2 separate regions of the Homo sapiens genome follow, and region 2 is linked to region 1. Evidence: fine-mapped QTL for protein levels in blood plasma. A gene starts in region 1. The other region holds a variant in brackets. All regions are shown on one strand. Distances are from middle to middle.

The links. A credible set is the group of variants that fine-mapping cannot tell apart. PIP is the chance, under the fine-mapping model, that this variant and not a neighbour inherited with it causes the effect. The UK Biobank Pharma Proteomics Project read protein levels with antibody pairs (Olink). The fine-mapping took linkage between variants from a reference panel, not from the people measured, so its PIPs are less certain.
Region 2: its variant is the best candidate, but not a certain one, in a credible set for the plasma level of the DPP10 protein (UK Biobank, PIP 0.51).

Annotation. Positions count from the first base shown.
Region 1 is chr2:114,435,907-114,445,808 of GRCh38, forward strand. It overlaps DPP10 (dipeptidyl peptidase like 10), which reads left to right and starts at 6,735. Exons shown (of 26, transcript NM_020868.6): 1 at 6,735-6,932. The coding sequence starts at 6,873.
Region 2 is chr2:115,725,625-115,733,624 of GRCh38, forward strand. DPP10 (dipeptidyl peptidase like 10) reads left to right here. Exons shown (of 26, transcript NM_020868.6): 8 at 2,192-2,312. Among named protein-coding and RNA genes, the nearest start is that of DPP10-AS1, 570 kb to the left of the region's middle. The variant C/A (reference allele first, on the strand shown) is at 3,562.

The DNA of each region.
Region 1 (9,902 bases):
GAGATATTTTGAATTTGGGTACTTTACTTGCCTTTTCCAAAGACTACAAACATTTAATTTGCTTTAAGACTGCTCCTTGAATTTTTATTCCAGAAGACTTGCCTTATGACCATAATTTTGTAAGATAGAACAAAATTTCCAAACCAGCACTTTGTTCTCTTATATAATGTACAAAATGCTGAAGTTACAAACCACACCTGCCATGGCACCTCCTTAATGCTGCCAAGGTAGCAGTCAGCCTCTGAGTTGGGCACTATCTGCAGTTGAAGACTGTTTACCACAGGGAAAGGAAGGGAACTGAGTCCTGGCAAACACTGGTTCTGCATTCCACTGCTTTGGAGATGTGGGATGCACAGTAGAATCCAGGACTGAATGACTGCCAAAGCTCCCTAAAAATTATAATGATTGTTTTATTGGGCTCATCAATTATCTACCTTACATGTGAACTCCTTTTCAGGTCATAAATGTTGCGACAACACTCAGAACAGGAAGAAATGAAAGCAGGAGAAATGGGCAATCAGGGAGCAATGGTCAAAATTCCTAATAGGCAGATCTTGGGACCTTAGAATAGTATAGGCTGGCTTGGGGGACTGCTGTCACTAATAGCTGAACTAGATGAAGTAGTCTGTCCCTGATGTCTGGGGAACTATAGTGCAATGGATTTTATGTGTGCATTCTGTCTTCACAGTGATTTATGACTTTGGCCATAGAGAAAATTTATTGAAGGCATTTGTCAGGGATTGTGGAGCAGATTGTTATGCTTACATAAAGAGTTACCTCCAGTGTTTATTTCTGTGTGTTCATGAAAGCATCTGTATCTAGAACTGAACATTTCTAAGGCACTTTTGGGGGTCTTGTTTGCTGAGTTATTTGCAACTGGAGAACTGAGGGTGAGGAAAGCTCCAAAAATCCCTTATGAGGAAATCATGGCTATCTATTTTAGTGTTTTATAAATTTAGGATTTGGATCACATTTTCAGCTGGAAGTTTTTGCAGAAGAGAATTATTCCAGAAAACATAAATGTCACCATTAGAACTGTGTAAGACAATGACAGTAGCAGAGATAATGTTTTGCTTTTTTATGGATGTGGAACTCCACTTGGGGCAACTGATAATTTTTGAGATGTTTGTGTTTGGTTCTGGTTAGCAAGCAGCAGGGAGTGGAACCTGTCAGGAATGTCAGTCAACTGGATCTGTGACAGTCGGTCACCCTGAGGTTGGTCTGCATCATACAGACTATATATCCAGTGTACTTGGAAGCAGGCAGCCTCCAGGATAAGAGCAAATTATAGTCAAGGATCAGCTAAGAGGACAGTTTGAAAAGTTTGTGGTGATGATCAAGAGATGAATAGTGGAAAAATCAGGAAGCCAAATCCAGTAACGGGAGATGCAAAGAGGGGCAATTCACACTTGTCAATGAGTGTAGGTCAGTTCTTATTGGATACGGGAATGGCAGCCAGCTCTAAAGCTGGACTGGCATAGGCTAGTCAATAACTTCACTTATTTGTTGATTCTAATCCCTGCTCTCACGTTCTATGTGGTTTTAGGCAATACCTCATGAGAGAAAGAGTACAATAAACTACTTCATTAATTAATTTGGACGATAAATTGAAAATGTAGAGCGAGCACTTCCCACTTTCTATGTGTTTGTGTGTTTGGTTGGAATATTATGGGACATAAGTCTGGAGAGGTGGCTTTCAGACAGTGAATCACACAGTAGTTGATCATCTAATGTAAAAGCGAGTTTAGAAATTTGTGTTCTTTTTCTCATTAAACTTACATTTTATTGCTACTTGAGAATTCATAATACTATATTTGCTTTTTTTTCAGAAAGTCCTTCAAGTGATTACTACTGAAAGAATAAGAAAATGTGAGTTTTACTTTTTGTTGTATTAGTACAGTTACAACGGTTAGTAGGATAAAATAACTTTTTTTATTCGTATAGCAGAATAGTTAAAAGTATGCACTCTTATGTAGTCAGGCCTGCCTGCTCTGCCTCCTACCAATGGCTCTGGCCTTTGCAGAGCTATATGTGCCCAGCAGGGGAAATCCTCATAGCTCACATTCAACTCTGGTATTTCCCCATATGCAAGTGTTATTATGGGTCTGTATCCTACTCCTGAATAACTCAGGAAAAGATATTAGGAAAGCCCTGTTGATAACAAGACACATAGGATAAAGAAGTTCTGTCTTATATTTACCTGAAGTAGCTTTGAAATTAACTTGTCACAGTCTATGGACCATTAAATATAAGCATGTTGGCATCTTAAGGTTGGATGGCAGAGATAGGCATATATCTCTGCATATGAAAAATAAGCAGCAGTAGGGTTATGGCTATCATTAGGGTTACTCAGAATGCTATTCTGATTTTACTGCTACTTGGGTGCATGCTGCACGTCACTTTCTTGTTACCTAAACTTGAATGTAGCCATGAGAGTGGCTTTAGCCAATGGAATGTAAGTAGAAGTGTTTTGTGTCTTTGCTGGGCATAAGCCTTTAAATAAGAGCATGATTTTTCATGTTTCTTTCCTTCTGCCTTGTTGATTGTGAAAGCTTGTATTAAGATGGGGCCTTTATCAGCCTGGATCCCTAAGATTGAAAGAGCCTCACGTGCTCTTCCTCCCGTGCCAACCAGGTATTGGCATGCTGTATAATGAGAAAGAAACCTTCATTATTTTAAACCACTGGGATTTAGAGATTACTTATAAATGTATTTATTTATTTATTTTTATTTTTTGAGATAGAGTCTCCCTCTGTCATTCAGGCTGTAGTGCAGTGGCACAATCTCAGCTCACTGCAACCTCCGCCTCTGGGGTTCAAGCAACTCTCATGCCTCAGCCTCCCGAATAGCTGGGATTACAGGTGTGCACCACCATGCCAGGCTAATTTTTGTATTTTTTTGTAGAGATGGGGTTTGCCATGTTGCCCAGGCTGTTCTCAGACTCCTGGCCTCAAGTGACCCACTTGTCTCAGCCTCTCAAAATGCTGGGATTATCAGTGTAGGCCACTGCACCCGACCTTGGAGGTTATTTGTTATTGAACCATAACTTTGCCTATCCTGACTCTGCAAGTGGTTTCCAGAAAAGATCAATTCTTGAAGACCATGAAGCCACAATTAGACCAGAGACTTCCACTTGAGTGAATCCCGGGAACAATCTGAAGCATAGAAGGTGTTACAAGCAGGGGTCAATCATGAAGAAAGATGTGGCAGGCAGGAGTTAGGTGAGGGTCAAGTCAAAAAAGCCAACCATTAGAAACCATATTCCAGTTCTAGTAGGAAATGCAAATGACTCAGTGGATGGGTCATGAGAAGACCAGAACACAGATGATAGGTGTTAAGATGAGGAGATGATCCCTCAATGGTCATGGAGGGATTTGAATTTTCTACAGTAGATTTCAAAAAAATCAGGGAAACAGCCCAATATCCTTTCAGATACCATTCTTATTGACTAGAGGCCTGGGCTTGCCTAACTTTGCAATCTGTAGGTCATCACTGTGACCAGCTAGTTAGGGCTTGGGCAGATGGGACTTGAAACAAAGAGACGGAAATTGGTAGTAGAATCCATCTGACACTTTGACTTTTTTTTTTTTCTAATGGGATATTTTCATTAACCCCATCCTAAATTTCTATTTCCCGGATCAAATGATAGCTGGTCAAGGAACATCGTGGGTTATATTTTCTGAAAGCGTTAGCCATCTTAATTTTTTTTGTGGGAAAGGTGGAAGGGACTCACTCCTAACTTTTCCCAAACTGTTTGACAACAACATATTTTTATACGGTTATCATAAGTGTTGATTACATTTGAAATTGGTCCTTTGGACTAAATTGTCTAAATTTTCTAGTTCAGTATGATTTACTGTATAGTGTTTCTTCAGCAGATCTAAACCTTAAAAAAAACTACTTCCATGTGACAAACCGTGATGCAATTTTGCAGCTGTTTTCATTCTAAACATATTGAGCCCAATATATCCCAATTAGAAGAAATGTATATGAATTATCCTTATTAAGCGGTATTTGTAATTCTCTAGCACTTGTCTAAATTTCTTTGGTCTCTATTTTCTTCTAGTTGTACATTCCAATTGGCTACATTAAGATACAGCAGATTTTACAAAATAATGAACAATTTATACATGTTTTAAATAGAAATGTTTAAAAATTACTATGGTTTTCATTTCCTTGATTCATGAAATGATAATATAACAGAAAGGGAAAACAAAATCCAAAATGAGATTTGGGTCATATGTTTTGCTCTGAACACTTGATTTTTCTTTGGAACTTGGAGTTTGATATAATGTGGAGCCTGGAAAGGGAGCATATGGTGTATACGAGGCACTCTTTTCTCTTACTGTGATTTTTCTCTATTTTCAAAATGCAACTTTGGGAAAAGATTTTAGGTGGATTCTGGCCACCTACCTATAAATGGTAGTGTCAATATCTTTCTTGGATCCTGCTGCCATCCAGGTGGGGGTAGAACCTTTTTGAAAAATTGTAGAAAAGGGGTGAAGTCTCATGTGATTATAGTTGTAGAAATCCAGCAACTCATACCCTCTTTGTGGTAGGCATATAAATGCTGTCTCTATCAATGTGCCTGGAGAGGGTTCCTTGAAGTACTAGTGGCTCCTTCCATCCTGTACAGTTCTTTGATGGGGATGGGATACTCTGAACTCTTGGACTGCTCTCCCTCCCTGGGCTCCCCAGATAATTTAGTTTGGAAGTTTCTTAGATACCTAGTACAAAGTGCTATCTAAGAAAGGAATTAAGCCAATTCTACTGGTATAGAACATTCATTTATTCAGAGATTATCAAACTGTAAACCACCTGATGAAATGTTCATAGGTTTTTTCATTGAGTATTTTGTATGTTTTTTACTTCATTACTTTCTTCTCTTCTCTTTATTGTTTCCCCCCTATAATTTATTTGAGTTTATTTTGCCATTCTTTTTCCAACTCTTTGATATGAATAATTAGCTTATTAATTATTAATTTTATGCTTTTCTGCATTTCTGGTATAGGTACTTAATTATATACATTTTCCTTTAAATATTGATTTAGCTGCATACTGCAAATTTTCTGTGTTGTTTTCATTATTGTTGAATACAAAATGTTTAAACATTTTTAATATACTCTTTTTGTGATTTATGAATTATTCAAAGCAATGCTATTCAAGCAAAATACAAGATAAGCCACAAATTCCAGTCACATTTGTGATTTAGAATTGTAAACTTCAAATCATGAGATTTGTTGGCCCTATGGCTGCCTCTGGTTGTGCTCAATATGATGCCTGGATATTGCTACACCAGATTCTTGCACACAGCCTTTTGCCTGGTTCTTATTGGCTCCATCTCTTTTCCCATGATTCTCCTGATTTCTCCAATACTCTTGCCATTAACTTTTGTGGCTGCAAACAGTCTGATCTTACTTCTGTCACATCCTTACCTCCACTTTGCTACTCAGAACTATAACCTTCTGAAACTTAGCCATCCTCAAACATGTGCAGACTACTTTGTCAGAATGTTTAGATCCCTTTTCTGTTTTACAAGAGAAAATATGTGTTTATAATTATGTATAAATTAATTTCACCAAACATTAATTTATTTCATTTCACATTAAAGTTTATCTGTAATATTTTAGGCTGTTCATAAAAGCCTCCTGAATGTAGTTCGTTAGTTCAATCTTATAAACCTAGCATTTCATTAGTAGGATACATTTCTGATGAATAAATACTGTTGGTTTTCAACATCAAACACTTTGCAACAAAAGTTGGAAAAGAGTGTCCTGCATTTACTCAAGACTACTGGATCTTATTTCCAACCAGGATATATTTATTCTAGTTAGTGTTGATGTGACAATGGGGACTGGTGACTCGGAAAACTTAATTTACAAATATTTATAATTTATTTTGCCTAAAATGACATTAGGGACAGAGAGGTGACCATTTGGGGAGTTAGACTGGCATGAGCTAACTACCAGTTTGTCCCAGGCATTCAAAAAATACGGCTTCAAGGAAAGCAATGGTCAAAAATAAAGGTTGAAAATAAAAACATTGTCTAGCTTTGGTGCGATATCCAAAAACTACAATAACTATTGTATTTGAAAACTTTTTAAATATACCTTAAGCTTTCTGCCACCTTACAGAAAGGACAGTCTCTTGGCTGGCTGTTATGGCTAAATTTTAAAAATATCCATAGGGAATATCAGTCCTTCAACCTATAGATATAAAACCCCCAAATTCTGAAACTGCCAACAGTCTTTTTTTTTTTTTTTCCACAGCATTTACTTGTGTTTTGATTGCAAGAAGTACCCAGGAAGGAATAAAATTTAGTAACAGAATGAGGATGTTATGATTTTTTTTTAAACTGGGTTAGGGGTGGGGAGAGGGAGAGAGAGAGAGAGAAATATTTTGCACTGGAAAAACTATAATCTGGAGAGACAGAGGAGTTGAGAGTGCCCCTTTAAACTGCAGGACTGCAATTGATCTCTGTATGTTTTCTGGTTTTCGTCCCTTTGAAAGGGGAATGAGAGCCAGGATCATTGGCTGTACTGTGGAGCTGTCACATCTCCATACTGAAAAGGTACACTGCAAGTGAATTTAAACCGTTTTTGGCTTTCTATTGCATATTGCCAAGAGCTTTGAGACTGATGAACCAAGTAAATGCTCTATTTAGGGCTAAGTGAGATACAGATTCCTCCAATCTGATAGCGTTTCAGCCTCCGGAGTGAGGAAGCAGCAGAAACAGAAGCAGCAGAAGCAACAGCAGTAGCAGCGGCAGCAGCAACAGCAGCAGCCCCTACTGAAGTCCAATAGAGGAGACTTGATCTCTAGTTCATTCTGGAACTCCGCCTGGGATTGTGCACTGTCCAGGGTCCTGAAACATGAACCAAACTGCCAGCGTGTCCCATCACATCAAGTGTCAACCCTCAAAAACAATCAAGGTAGGATCTGGTTTTTCCCTCTGCTTCTGCACATGTGTCTTCATTCATCTACCTAACACATGGGCATTGATATATCGGGGTACTGACAGTGGACATACCTACTTGATTTGAGTTTGAATTGAAGGTTGAGTCACAATAAAGCATTTGGCTCTGCATGTGTGTGTAGACTGGAAAGAATAGTTTCCACTGAACACTTCTTTCATCTTCATGACTTTTTTTTTTTTTACTGAGAATCTATCAGAGGTATATTTCCAGAAGAAAGTTTTGTGAGTGTCTAGAAGAGTTTCCAGTCCATGCCAATTTTCTTGATAGAACTGGGGAAGAATTTGCAAACTGCTAGAAATAAATAGCATCAAATTGACTACAAATCTGATAACAGGATTTCATTGTCATATGAATTTTGGATCTCTTATCCTTTTTTAAAAAAAGCTCATCCTTCATTGTGAGCATTGAACTGGTGGTTATACTAAAGTGATTATAGTGAGAGAGGATGAAAGACTAGAGAGAGAGTATAAAATCACATGTCTTTATTTATATCACCATGTAACTCAAAACCAGTGAGATGATTGGAGACACTCTTCAATGCAGGTGTTGTTTAAAATTTGAGGCTTTTCTGACAGCACATGGTTAAAGGTAAAGAACAAACTCACAATTTCACTCTTCTGTTTTAGTTTCAAGTCATGCTTATACCATTCTCTTTGTTTTTATTCGGGATGCTCTTATTTCCAAGAAGGCTTATAAACGACCAGACTTCCAATCAAAGTTTACTATATTTTGCCATTTACTTGAATTGTATTATTATCTATGTGGATATTTTGCATCTTGAGGGAAAGTGATGGATTCGTCTGAAACTCTTTTATGAAAAAAAAAAAAAAACTAAAACAAAAAACGTGATATCCTGACAGGGCATCTTTAGTTACTGCAATCTCTCATTAACATACAAGTGCATACCTTTTGCTACTATTCCTGATAAGCCTGACTTTTTATGATTTATATTATGTTTTGGTTTATGTCTCAGGCCTTTAATAATATTGCATAGACTGTAATTACAAAAGGAATATAATTTTCAACAATGTCTCTTCTTCATGAATTTACCTACCGTTTGCCAGAGTGTTTCAGTGATAGATAAACCATAAACTAAACATGTTCCTCTATTTATTAGCAGTGACTTTTAAAAGCAATGGGGTTTCCAGGGTATATTAAATGATGCATAATTAGATTCCCATCATACATAAACATAGGGAGTTAACTGAAATCATGCAGAACTCATATTCAGATAATTTACACCACCTCTAATAACAGATATGAGAATCTTTTTCAGCATTAGATTTTCTGTGCTGTATCTAAGTTTAGAAATAAAAAATGTTGAGCTTTTGGTATAGTTTTCCTCTGTGTATCAGTTTCCCACATACATCAATTATCTAAGCATATCACTGAACAAAGCCAAAATAGTAAATACATGACACTCTACATTGGGATATATAAGCTCTAGTGGGAAATATGTATTGAAGCCTAAAGTGGGATAGAGTTACAAACTGGCTGCCTACTGCTAAGTATGTCTAGAATGCTATAACAAAACCAGTGGCTTTCTGTTTAAGAGTCTGAGGTCACAGGAATCAAGCATTTATTTTCCCTTTTCTTTATTGAGTAAGCATAAATGACTACTACTTTCAGAGACTTCAAATCACTTCCTTTATTAGTGCTCTGGCATTGGCTGCCCACAAACAAACTGTGGAACAGAAAAAAAAATGTTTCTAGTGTAGAGGTTTTACATCATCTTGCTGATCTTGCAGATGCTGTTTTTTCCTTCTAACTGCAGCCATTGAGTTGAAATGAAAAGTATCATAAAAATTGGACAACCCACCACTTAACAATGTATTATATTAATGGCTTAATGAAGGAATCTTGAATCAAAGCTCTGGGTAATTTGGTTAATTGTACAAGTTAAATTCTTTTGTGCACCCCATTCCCAATATTGCTCTGGGGAGCAAAAAAATGCTTGTGATGTTCATAAAATATATATAGTCGCAAGCACTGAACTATTAAGGGAGTAATTACTTGAGTATTTTGCAATTTGCAATAGTGAAAAGGGATGAGTGGAAAATCTCTCTTAGTTCAAATTATGTGCTCAATTATGAAACATTTATGGCTTTTTGAATTTATACTAAAAATGGCTATCTATATTTAGGTAATGCATTAGCCTATGAACAAAATGCAATAACAATCTAAAGAAAAACTCTAAGATGAGAGGGTTTTGGGAAGCTGTGGGACATTGGAGCTCAAAATACTCTTTGAACTATTAGAATTTTAGTTTCAAGCATGGTTGTTTAAAGTTAATTTTATTCCTCACTCTTAAATTTACTATCAATTTACTATCAGATAATTTTAAGTAACCCTCCCTCATGGAATCTGGTTGGCCTGCAGGTAATGATAACCCACTTTGAGGATCTGGAAATAAATAACTTGCATATTGCTCCATTTTAGAAATTCAAAAACCTCTAGAGACTTTTCTCCCAAAGCTCAGTGTAATAACCTCTAGAGAACTTTTCCCCCATCAGTATAGTAAATGCTGACTGTTTCTTCTCTCAACAGTTAAACTACGGCTAAAAAGAATGCAATGGGAATGAACAAAAGTGAAATGCATTGCTAAAATAGCTGTAAAGGCCAAAAGTGTGCAGGAGGAGGAAAAACAGCTCTGTGTGTGTGTGTGTGTGTGTGTGTGTGTGTGTGTGTGTGTGTGTGTTCTCCTCCACTTGAAGTTCAAGAAGTGATGAAGTCTATAGTGGGTAAAATTCAGCAATTGTTGCCAGTGAAGGCTGTTTGTGGCCATGATGTGTCAGAGTTGGAAAAGAGGAAATTGGGAGAAGTTATAATGGAACAAGATGATCAAGAGTATTCAGGTTGCTTGACACTTGCTTTGGTCGTTCTGGCCATTCTTTAGCTCAGACAGTTACTGACACACTTTTCCTG
Region 2 (8,000 bases), 1.3 Mb after region 1:
ATTTTGACTTAGATTTTATTCCCTTCAGAAAGCTGAGAATTCAGAACCATATTACTTTGGGTGAGGTCACCTCCACTCCTAATAAGAGCAATATGTGCTGAGTAGTCCCGGTGTGCATGATCTGTGCTGTTATGACTCACAAGTCCCACTAGAAGTTTCAGGTACAGGAAAGGAATTTCCTCCAAATAAGGAAAACGTTGTGCACCTGTGTTGTATACTGTTTGTGAAAAGCAAGAGGATGTAGTATTGGAAAGGTGTAAAGCTTATGCTTTAGTTGGCTAGAACAAAGTTCATATTTTTTCTCAGTTATCAGGGGTCGTGAAAGTCATTAAATCCAACTTCTATCCAGTGTTAGGGAATCTGAGAGGTAATTCTCAAACTTTTGCCTAAGTGTGATCCACATAATTTTAGTAATAAGCTTATTTCCTATTTCATTGTCTCACCTGAGAACTTTCTAACTGAGGTGGAAGCAATAAATATTATTTGTTAATAGCTCTCTCCTCCTCCATGTCCCTTGCCTTCCTACTATTAATACTACCACTATTGCTGCTACTGTTCTGCTCCTACTCCTAATACATATTTAACTAATATAACATGTACTCTACCAGACAAAACGTTGGGATAATTTACATATCAGCTAAAGCTGTAGAGGCTTCATTTTGACTTAGAGTTTGTTGCCTCCAACACTCTTAACATTGTGAACCAGGTTATCTTGTGTACAGTCCACCCTGCTTTTAGTAATACCCCAATGTGCTATTTATTCTGCATTCATCATCTCATTTACTCTTCACCACAGATCTGTAAGGTATGTGTGAGCCTTATTCACATTTTATAAAGTAGAGGACCGAGATTTAGAAAGGTTAAGAATGTTATCAAGGTCATTAGGATTTTAAATTTAGGCTGCCTGGCTATAAAGTCCACGCTTGTAACCACCCTGCAGTACCCTCCTTTCATTGTTTTTATTTATTTTTAAATTCTTACTCTGATATTGAGATTCTCACCTGTGGTATAAAAAAGATCCTGTTGTAGCGGTGGAATTAATAATTAAATACACCCACCTGTAAATGCTTGTTAAATCACCAGAATTAAAATAGAATATCCATGAAATGTTCTAGATGTTCAAATTGCTCTTGTCACTGTGCACACCAAGATTTAAAACCTAGGGCCTCGTAAGTATTCAGACAATTGTCTTGGAAGATCTTGTGTTTTCTCTATTTGCTACTGTGTGTTAATTCTATACCATGCTAGGATACAGGGGCCCTATGCCATCTTTCACCTTCTTAGTAGAATGTTTGATCTAAATAGCAATTTGGCTTGCCCTGGACAATGTTGTGCTTCCCCTAACCAAAGAAACATGGTTCTCTGGAAGATTATAGTACCACATTGGTCAGCAGTTTCAAGTATTTGGCATTGAAGACATTGTAAAGCGAATTATAAATAATTTTATCCTGAATTATCTATATCATAGGCACATTGTGACATTGTTTAGTTTGCACCATTGTTCCTGTTGTTGGGGCTATTGTTGATATTATTTTGGCAGACTGTGCTATGTTCAAATTAAGACTCTCTCTGGAACTCTCAGTTATAAGGTTATTATTATTGCCGTACTATTTACAAAAGAGTTGCCAAGACTGGTGCACTGGAAGCTGTGTTCCACTTATCAATTCAAAGGAATTTTAGTATCGTTTCTACCATCAGGGAATCTGTGAGCTGAGCTAGATAGAATCAGAGAGATTATCTAGAGATTATTTTATTGATCACCAAATGCATTTTTGTAAAAGTAAAGACCCCAAATTGAAGCTCTTCAAACAGTCAGTTGGTGTTACTAAAATGGCTTATAGTTACAGTTATCAGTCTCTTGAGTAAGCAAAATGTTATCTCAAAGCCAAAACAATTTTGTGGTATGGAGAGAGATTATTAAGTAGTTGAAATATTGTTGCTGAAAATATGGATTTAAAAGCATCAATACCAAGTGCCATGGAATTTCCAAATGACAACTTGATATTGATACAATAAAACAGAAAAAGCCATTAATAATTGAAAGCAATAAAAACATATGCCTTGAATAAAAACAACTTGAAGCCCGTAAATAATACAACATGGCTATTCAGTGATCATTCTGTAATATTAAAGTTTCAAAAGGCATCCTAACGTGTTGGATTTTTTGTTTGTTTCACATTTCCTGATCCAGATTTATATTTTTGAAAATAATATCTACTATCAACCTGATATAAAGAGCAGTTCATTGCGACTGACATCTTCTGGAAAAGAAGAAATAATTTTTAATGGGATTGCTGACTGGTTATATGAAGGTGAGTTGATCAGATTTAGTTTCAAAGGAAACAAATGACATATTTTTATACAAAATCTACCAAAAAAAATCTATTCATTCCGGAGCAATACTTACAGTACAGTTTCTTCTCATTTTCTCTCAAAATTGCCCTCATGCTTTCATATCTTTGCATGTGCTTATATTTTGTGTGGTTGAGATTTACATCTACTTACATGATTCCATGTTTGGTGTATATATGTACATATAGGCTAGATAGATATTATTTGTGAGGACAACTAATGAAAGTAAATGGTTACCTTATGTCACTTTGGAATTAGATGCTGAATTTTTTCTGACTCTCTGGGAAAGAAGAAACAGAAACCTTTATTTCTAAAAAAAAAAAAAAAAAATGCATAAAAAGCCACCTGATTTTAGTTATTTCCATTAGGGACATTCTGTCACACTTTATAAGCTATTGCAGAGGGAGCAAAATAAAACCCACATAAAGAGTTATTTTCAATATCTATTGAATCAAGTTTTAGTAATAGCTGAGAATATAAAAATAAATCAGGTGATGAAAATTTATCCAGTTTTTATCACGTACCAATTATCAGCTGAGTTCTACATATAGATTGCCTGGGCAAGACTCAAAGTATGAGTTTATTACCTATGTTTCAGATTCTTCAGCTGATTTTGGCAAAATATGTCAAGATTTAAAGTAAGTCTACTTTATTATAAATTATAAAGCTATGAATCATTCAAAAAGTGAATTTTATTTCATGGGCAATATTTGCAAATGTAATCTCTCTACCTCAGATTTGACATTTTTAATTCTATAAGAAAAGTGAATAACTTAGACCAATTATTCATTCATTCACTCTTTCACTCAAATGATATCATTGAAGGCCTACTGTATTCTGGATAGATGTCTAGGTGCCAGGATAAAAGACGGAGCAAAAAGTACTGCTCTAATAAACCGTATATTTACGTGAAATATTTTGTTAGGTGGAGCTATTTTATTAAAGAAGAGATGTTGTAACCCTTGAGATTTATATGTATATGTGTACATGTATATTTATATCTATAATAGATTTCTGTGTACATGCCAGCATGAAATAAGATTTTTAGAGGCTACAATTTATTGTGAAGAGCAGTGAGAGCTTCCCCGAAAATATTAACAATAAGTATGCTGTGAAAGTATATATTAGAAAAAGAAATACACAGGTAAGGAGTGTTCATTGGTTGAGAGTTACAGAATCTAAATCTGGCTTTTCTATTTCAAAGAGATA[C/A]ATTACTGGAGGGGACTGGGATGGCCCTCAGAATTTAATAAACAGGTGGACAACACATTTAAAATCTGGTTAGTTCTGGCAGTCTAGGTAGCAGGAGCTAATTGAAGTGCAGAGACTAAGACGTGCCCTTTTTCTTCAAAATATTATTGGTACTGTGTGACACCCTGACAGATGAAGAAACCATGTTAATGCAGTGTGGTAAGTAGTTGAATCTTAATCAACACAGAATTCTATGGAAGAACAAAGGAATGATACCATTCTAGGGATTTGCAAGCATTTTTTCTAAAGGAGAAACCCTGGCCAACAACAGTAGCTCAAGCCTGTAATCTCAGAGCTGTGGGAGGCCAAGGTGGGAGAATTATCCAAAGCCAGGAGTTCCATACCAGCCTAGACAAAATAGCAAGGTTTTCATTTCTACTAAAAAATTTTTAAAAATTAGCCAGATGTGATGGCATGCACCTGTGTTCCCAGCTGAAGTGAGAGGATTGTTAATGAGAGAGGATTGCTTGAGCTCGGGAGTTGAAGACTGCAATGAGCTATGATCCAGGCCCCTGAACTCCAGCTTAGGCAACAGAGTGAGATCCTTACCTCTTAAAACAAGGGAGAGAGAGAAAAAGAGAGAGAGAGAGAAGAGAGAGAGAGCATCTGAGTCAAGCCTGAACAGTTAACAAGTGTTACGCATGAGAAGAAATTAGGAAGGAAAAATCTAAGCAGATGTAACAATTTGCAAAAACCCACAAGTGTGTCCCTAGGGAACCAAAGTCTCCTTGATATAATTGGGCCATAAAATTTGAGACAAAGGAAGGTAGCAAGAAGCGAGGGATAGTGACCTCTATCAATGATTTGGAATTTCAATTATTTTCCTACCATTTAATAGGAAAACTAATAGAAGTTTTCAAGTAAGGGAGTGACAAGATTGGATCTTCCATATGAACAGATTGTTTTTGTGACAGCAGGAACCTGGGGTCTAAGAGTGGAAAGAAACGGTGAGCGGCTGTAAGGCTTCTTCTATGTTCTATCAAGAGATAATGAGCAATGGAACTAGGGTTAAAGCAGTAAAAAGGAGGAAAGACTCTAAAATTGATGAGACAATGAAATATATAGGTCTTAGTGGCTAAGCAGATGGGGTGAATGATAAGAAGTCAAGGATGATTCTGTGTCTTCTGGTTTGGGTCACTAGTAAGTAGTGGTGGCAGACATAGTGAGCAAGCATTAACAAGGAGCAGTGGGTTTCAGGGAAGAGAAGACTAGATTAGCAGCAATGCGGGCATTGAACCACGTACTGACGTGCTCCCTTGGTGATAAAAGGTGGTCTGTAACGTCGATGAAGTTTTCAGTCAACTGAGGGTATACTCAATGTAGACCATGCTTATTGTGCTGCTCCGTCCCGAATTAAGATGACTTGGGTCTCTGTCCTATTGAAAAGGCTTCATACATTTATAAGGAAATTTTAAGGAGAGAAATTAGAGACCGTTTCCTGACAAATACGGTAATTTTCTTAACTAAAGAATAAAAATCTATGTATTCGGTCTGAGAGTAAACTGTTTGTAGGGGTTGTGGAGAGCAGAACAAACGGGTAATACAAACTTTTGTGATGATGCTGTAGGTCTGACGCATTCCAAAGGGGAAAGGAAAAAGTATAGTTTTTGCCATACTTTGGGCTCCTATGTTGCCGTTAACTAGGAAATGCTGTACGTGTATGTGATTTAATCATCAAAATGTTTGTGCATCTAATCATTTATGAAGAAACTAAGACGCACCCAGTGCTGTGGCTCATGCCAGCAATCCTAGCACTTTGAGGGGGCGAGGTGGGCAGATCACTTGAGCCCAGGATTTCAAGACCAGCCTGGGCAATATGGCAAAATCCTGTCTCTACTAAAAATACAAAAAAAGGCTGGGTGTGGTGGCTCATACCTGTAATCCCAGCATTTTGGGAGGCCAAGGCCGGTGGATCATGAGGTCAGGAGATTGAGACCATCCTGGCCAACATGGTGAAACCCCGTCTCTACTAAAAATACAAAAATTAGCTGGGCATGCTGGTGCGTACCTGTAATCCCAGCTACTCGGGAGGCTGAGGCAGGAAAATCGCTTGAACCAGGGAGTTGGAGGTTGCAGAGCCAAGATCATGCCACTGCACTCCAGCCTGGTGACAGAGCAAGACTCTGTCTCAAAAAAAAAAAAAATTTAACTGGGTGGGGTGGTGGGGTAGCACATACCTGTGTTCCCCCCTACTCTGGAAGCTGAGGTGGGAGGATCACCTAAGCCAGGAAGTTGAGGCTGCAGTGAGCCAAGATCATGCCACTGCACTCCAGCCTGGGCAACAGAAGCGAGACCCTGTCTCAAAAGAAAAAATTTAAAAAAGAAACCAAGACTCAGAGAGGATCAGTGATTTAGACATGGCCTCAGAGCTAATGAGTGGGAGAGCCAACATTTGAATGTGTGTCTTTTGTTCCTAAAGCCAGGGCTTAGTCACTAGTCTACTCTACTTGTTATAGGGGGATGTCCTTCACTGTTCCCCAAGACACAACACACGTTTTGGGACCTAAATTGTCAGACTTCAGTGATCTGTTTCCTCAGCCAAAGACTCATCCTACTGTCCATGGACTTACTCTAATCCTCACTGCATTTCCAGGAGGAACCCTACCCATGACTTCAATGTTAAGGTTTGGCAGAGGGATGTAAGCTATTCAGATGTTTTTGATTTTCCCTCACTATTTTGACTGCTACCCCCAACCTCTGCTTCAAGAGTCCTACATGCACCTTACCCTCCCACTATCACCTTGCTTGTGGAATGTGCCAGGAGCTCCCAAGCTCCAGACCTTTTTTTTCCCCTTTAATGCACTCACTGAAACACAATGATATTGCCTAGGGAATGCATGTAATTTCAACGTTATGTGTGTGATACTCTGGTGTGGAGATTTCCTTTTTATTACTTTACAGGAGTCAATTACAATCTAAATTAGCATGTATGGGAGACACAGAAAGTAACATGTAACATTTCAACTTTTTTAAAATTGAAATTTACCTTTTGTAAATGTCATAGAAAAAAAAGATGAGAGAAAGAGTGACATAAAAGACAATAAAATATTTTTACAGTAAGCTTTACAGGCATGTCTTAATCTTTTAAGACCAGGCCAATCTGTAAGAGTGGCTGCTGCCCCCAACTAGTCACTAAATAGAGTCCTTAAAAGTGTCAGTTTTAAGAATCTTTGTCTCTATTTTTAGTATTGTTTAGTTCCTAAAGAAAGTAAAGCAATATAAAGTATAATGCATTTTAAACAGCGAAGTCAGAAAAATAAGAAAATGCTCAAAAAGGAAGATTATTTAAAATGTAATTCGCACAAAACACGTATAATGTTATTCACTTAAATTGCTGTATTTAACCTAGCAATGTAATTAAATACGATATCAGATCAAAGTTTTACTTTAAAAACTTTTAAAATGTTACTAAAAAGAAAGTTTACAGCTACCCACTTCACAGCTTTGAAAATTTCCATAAAGCATTTAATCTATTAAATAGGAAAAAAAATGACTCACTTTCAAATATTTAAGCATATAGAATAATGGAACTAATATGCTTAAGTGATTTACAGATATATTTTAGAACCTTGTATATTTAAGGGATTATTCCTTAAAGTTTAATCCAACAGCTGTGGAGCAAATATACCTGCCAGGCATTATCTAAGAGCAATACGATGAGAAATACGGGTTTCCATGTCTTGGGTATTTCCAACTTAGTGTAGTGATAAACAATAAACAACTATTGTATTGGGAACCATTTGGAGCATAGTAAATATAAATATAAATAGGATTTATTTCACATACTAAATAGAATTATAAGTAGAACTAAGTTTGATAGGATGGAGGAATGTCAGGTGCTTCATAGATGACATGGGCCTTGTGTTGGTATTCAAGAATGACAAGAATGAAAAGGTGCGGAAAAATTCACGAGATAAGCAATATTCTTATCAGCAGATTCTGATTGTTACACTTTTTTTGTTGAAATAAAACAGGGCAAAATGCCTATTTTCACCTTCATGTTTGTTTCACATTAATGTTTCACATTAATGTCTTTTGGCGACATGAAATTGCATTCATTTCATCATTGATTCAACAAATATTTATTGAGCACTTGCTCAGTGTCATCTATGGGGCTGCAGCATGGGAGTCACAGGAAGGCAGGGTTATCAGTAGTGCTGAGTCTCCAGAGGTCAAACAAGGGAAGGATTCCAAAGCTTTTGTTGGATTTGCTCATAGATCATCGATGGCCTTGACAGGAGTAAAATCAGTTAATTGGTGGGGCCAAATCCAAGACTGCAGTGGATGGACATGTAAATGGGGAGTGAGAAAGTTATGAATAGAGACTATTCTTTCAAGGAATTTGACAGTGAAATGCAGAAAATTGAAAAAAAAAAAAAAATCAACCACAGGCCTGCAGA